Regions from separate parts of the Homo sapiens genome. Here region 2 is linked to region 1. The links come from fine-mapping of genetic effects on gene expression. A gene starts in region 1. The other region holds a variant in brackets. All regions are shown on one strand. Distances are from middle to middle.

Region 1 (2,500 bases):
CTCTTTTTCCTCCTCTGTAGACTGGTGGACACTTGGGATGAACTAAAATTAAAACCCCTCTGCCCGTCAAAATTCCCAATTCTCAAACAGGACTAGTCCTCCCCCTCCCTCGCCAGGGGTCGAGCAGCTGGATCTCTCAAAAGCAAAAGGCTGCGGGGTCCGAGGGGGGCTCCTGGACCCTGCACAAAAAGGTACCCCCCCCTTCCTGGCTCGCTAGGGCGCAGCGGTCACAATAGCGCTGCACCCTGCGCCCAGCCAGCGCCGGAGCCTTTGCAGCGGCGGTGCGCAGGCCGCAGGCGAGCCGGCCGAGGCGGCTGCACCCCAGAGCTCGCCTTCCTGAATGCAGGCCTGCTGGATCCGCAGCTGCAGGGCGAAGAGGCCTGGACCCGGCAGAGGGAGAAACCGAGGCGGCCAGCGAAGCCCAGTCAGGGTAGCAGCAGCTGCTACAGCTCGAAAAACATGGCTGCTGCCGACGCCGCCGCCGCCTGCCCGGGCCGCGCTCCTTCCCGCAGCCGCGGCAGCACCTCCCAGCCGAGCCGATCGCTCTCATCAATATTCAGCAGCAAGCAAAGTTTGCTGCGGGAGGGCAGCCGGCCCCGCGCCCCGCAGCCTGCTACCTGAGGGGAGGCGGAGGCCGAGGTGTTCGCAGGCGGCCGGCGGGGCACGGGCCGCGCCGGGAGGAAGTTCGCGGCAGCCCGGCCAGCTAGGCCTGAGCCCGGCTGGTAGTGATGGAGGAGGGGGAGGGGGAGGAGGCCGGCGGCTGCAGCGCCGCCGGCCACCAACCCCGCATCGCGCCTGGCCCTCCCCCGAGCCCCTCACCTTACGGCCACCACCATCTTCCCCGCCCGGCCACCCTCCTCCCTCCCTTCTCCTCGCGCCTGCCCGCCGCCCACCCCAGCGCACTAGTTACCGTGCCCCGCGCCCCCTCCCGGGCCAGCTGGGGGGAGGGGGTGACCCTCATTACACTGGGGTGCGAGCGGAGCGGTGGGGAGAGAGCGGGGCCGCTCGCCGCACCCCCCTCCCCCCGCGTCTCTCTTCAGGGGAGAAGGCAGCGAGCGCGACCTGCCCCGGCCTATTCCGCCGCCGCCTCCTCCTCCTCACACCCCCACCGCGCGCGCCCCCGCGGCCGCGCGTGCGACCGAGCGCCTCGCGCCGGCCCGCGTGCGGCTGGGCCCCGAGTGCGCGCGCACCCCTTCCCCCACCGAGCGCGCGCGTTCCCTTCTCTCACTCTTCGGGGTTCAGGGCGGGTGAAGTCGGGCTTGTGAGAGCGCCGCCCAATCAGCGGAGCTGCCGCTGCCGCCCCCTCCCCTCCCCCTGCGCGCCCGCTCGCGGCCGGGGCCTACGGGCCGGCCCGGCTGCCCGGGCGGGGCCTGAGGCGGGCTCCCCAGGGGCCTCGCGCGCCTCCTTGGAGTGTCGGGGCCTGCGGGCGTCGTGGGTGGCATTCCGATCCCCTCACCTACCTCGGGGCACGGCGCTGGCCTCGGGCCGCACACGGCTCCCGCACCCTACGCGTCTCGAACCCCAACCCAGGCGGCACCTGGCGCGGCTGAGGCCTGTCCGATCGTCCCGCCAGCCCTGCTCGGGCCCGCGTCAGTCCCGGCCTCCATCTTAGGTTACAGCCCAGGCTCCCCATCCACTGGGCACCTGCCCTCAGCCCGCTGGGTTCGGCCCGAGGCCAAGGCAACCCCCCTCCTGCCGCAGGGCTCACCTGGGGGCTTGGGCTGGGGTCTTCGAGGCCTCAGGCCCCGAGCAGACGCGGCCGCAGGCGAACCCCCTACCCGGCCGCACCCCAAACCCACACCACCACCACCACCACCACCACAGACCAAGCTGAGCAGGAAACAAAATGGAGGCAGCAGCTCGGGTCTGCCTCCCTGAGCCAAGCCTGTGCAGCCCCAGGGCTCCCTCCTGTCTCAGGCTCGACGCCCGCGAGGCAGAGGCTGGATCGTCCCGGGTGCCGCGGGCAGCCGCCCTACAGCAGCGCAGACGGGCCGGGGACTCGGCCCTGCGGTGCCCACAGCCCCTCACCCACCACCCCTTCCCTTCCCCCTCCCCCCATCCCTCTCCCTCCCCTTGCCGGGCCGTGCGGGGTGAGCGGCTCTGGGGAGCCGGGTCGGGTTACCCGCCCCGGCACTGCTCGCCCGGCCGTGGCCTCCGCGGGGGAACGAAGCCAGGCGACCCCAGCGCTGAGCCCACCCCCGGCACCGAGCCGGGCTGCAGCCTGACAGCGCGTCCGCACCTCGGCCTGCAGCCGTGCGGCCCCCGCCCAGGGAGGCCGAGTCCCCAGCCCGGGCCCAGCCGGGACGAAGCTCCCTCACCACCCCCGAGCCCAGGGGTCCTCGCAGCCTCGGGCGGGGCGAGGGGAACGCCGGGGGAGGGGGTCCTCTAGTCCCTGCACCGCCTCCCGCGCCTAGTCAAGGTCTGGGCCTGGCACGGGGGCTCGGGCAGCGGGCGCCGGCCGGCGTGGGTATGTGCGTGCGCGCCGGGCTGGGGGCCGGGA
Region 2 (2,500 bases), 200 kb after region 1:
ATCCAGTGGTCTCTGTTCAACAGATGGCCTCTTCTTAAGGGACAAGCAAAATGGCTGCCAGCAGCCATAGCTTTTAATGGAAAGAAAGAATTTTTTTTTCCCTCAGACCATAGGTTAGTCTAGAGGAAGACTCTGATAGGCCTTTCTTGATTGAAGTGTCCACTTACGGTGTAGTCACTGTAACCAAGTAGATGGGTACAAGTCAGAACAAGTAAAGGAAAACCCTTTTACTAACTATGAGAAATTCTGTTAGTATCTGTCAGAAAATTCTGTAAGTCACAATAACAGAAAACATCATTAACAGTGGGTTTAACACGTGGGATTTCTTTCTCCTCACGTCACAAGTCCAGAGTGAGGCAGTTGGCTCATTGACATAATTGAGGATCAGGCTTTTGCCTTTGGTGCTACAGTCATAAACTTGTGGCTTGATTCACGGTTTCAAGATACCCGTTGCATCTCTAGGCTTCTCATGTATGTTTGAGGCAGGAAGACGGAGAAAACGTAAAGGGACATGACTGCTTACTCTGACTCCTTTGATCTAATACTCATTCCTGCATTCTCATGGAATTTGAGCTTATTCTAAATTATGGTTGAATTAAGGCAGTTCTAAATTTAGTGTTTGTTCATACCTCTAAAGTGTTTATATGTCTTTTTCTATATAAAATTATTTTATCTCTAAAGTCATTGATTAATTGCTTTTTATAGTGGTTCACCTTAAGATTTTTTCATATCCTGCTGTTAGTGAAATATTGTGCTGGATGCTGAGGGTAGGGAGGAGGGGCCTAAAAGACCCAAAAGATGGTAAGGGATATAATACAGATCTGAATAGGATCTCAAATTTATACTCAGAGAGTTTACAGTCCAGCAAGGGAAACAGACTTGGGTATGACTATGTATAGTACAACTCAGTCGAAATGCTAAGATGTAAGCACTAACCACCCACAAAGGAAGGTATTAAATCTGATTGGTGATTGGTGGAGTAAGGGAGGGCTTCTTGCTTAATTGTTCCCCTAATATTGGGCATGACTTTTTTTAACCTATTTTTTTTTCTATTAAAGATAAACATCTAGGGTCAGTCATGGTAGTTCACACCTGTAATCCAAGCACATTGGGACGCTGAGGTGGGAGGATCAGTTAAAGCCAGGAGTTCAAGACCAGCCTGAGCAACATAGGAAGACACTATCTCTGCAAAAAA[T/A]AAAAAATTAGCTTTGTGTGGTGGTACATGCCTGTAGTCCCAGTTACTTCGGAGGCTGAGGTGGGAAGATCACTTGAGCCCAGGAGTTGGAGGCTACAGTGAGCTGTGATTGTGATTGCACCACTCCACTCCAGCCTGAGTGACTGAGCAAGACCCTGTCTCAAAAAAAGAAAAAAAAAAAAATCTAAACTAGCAATGAGCCTTGTAATGTAGTTCTTTAATATGGATTACTAAAAGTGTAATTACTAGATTATATGTATAAAGTTACCAGTAGCTTATGAGAGCATTCCTTTTGCCTCCAAATACTGAGGGATATTCTTTTAAAAAATATATGGCATAGTAATAGATAGTAACCAATGGCATTTCATTGTACTTCATGTTTCTTTGATTAGTAGTGAAGTTGACATTTTTTGTTTTTTAAAAAGTCAATTTATATTTCTTCTTCGAAGAAGAATTCTCTGAAGTTTGCCTCAGTGTCTGTTGGGATCTCAGTATTGTTCTTATAGTTTATACAAGTTCTTTATAAGTGATTTACTTTTTGCCTCGAAGGTGCTTTCCAGGGTTTGTTTCACTCACCCGTCAGTTCTCACAAAATTTCCAGATTTATGCAGCCTGGGCCAGCAGCCCCCTTCTTGTGTGAACACTGCCAAAGCTTTTATTTCTTGAAGTAGAAGCAGTGCTGATCCTGCAGAAAGGTCTAATCGGTGTGAACAGAAGTGGCACTGATGTGGGGAAAAGAGTATTCAAATCCATGTGGAATTGAGAGGGTGGGTGGGCAGCAAGTAGAAAGGATAAAGAAGTCATTGCCTCCATGCTGTTCCATTCCTGTAAAAAAAAAAAAAAAAAAAAAAAGCATTGCTATTGCTGACTGGATGAAGAAGCTAGAGATAGAATGAAGAGGAGGTGCGGCCTGGTCACCGGGGGTCAGCAGGGGCTGGATGCCCAAAGTATTAGGTTTAAAGGAACTGGGATGTATCTCCAGAGCAACTGGGAATTTAAAAAGGTACCTTCTTCCACTGAATAGAAAAGTAATAGAAATGAAACCAACGAGTGAAATACATGTATTTTGCTATATTTATTCTTTCTGGTAGGTTGCAAGAGCAAGCACTTTCCCTCCCAGTATTAGGATTCGGCTGATACATATCTGGGATTCTGCTGATGTTTGTCTGTCTGTCTGTCTGTCTGTCTATCTGTCTATCTATCTATATCTGTCTCCTGTTTTTATATTTGCCGCCCCCCCGTATTACATCATAAACGTCATCTAACATGCCGTTTGAAATTATTTATATTCATGACATTGCTTAT

Evidence for each region. PIP is the estimated chance that this variant, and not a neighbour inherited with it, causes the effect.
Region 2: its variant is the best candidate, but not a certain one, in a credible set for the expression of NSD1 in neutrophils (BLUEPRINT, PIP 0.81).

What each region holds. Positions count from the first base shown.
Region 1 is chr5:177,132,363-177,134,862 of GRCh38, reverse strand. NSD1 (nuclear receptor binding SET domain protein 1) reads right to left here and starts at 1,090. Exons shown (of 23, transcript NM_022455.5): 1 at 911-1,090. RefSeq lists enhancers at 1-441, 442-993, 994-1,547, 1,761-2,055, 1,548-2,099 and silencers at 455-754, 815-974, 1,055-1,724.
Region 2 is chr5:176,932,406-176,934,905 of GRCh38, reverse strand. The region is part of intron 10 of UIMC1 (ubiquitin interaction motif containing 1); the gene reads left to right. Among named protein-coding and RNA genes, the nearest start is that of HK3, 34 kb to the right of the region's middle. The variant T/A (reference allele first, on the strand shown) is at 1,196.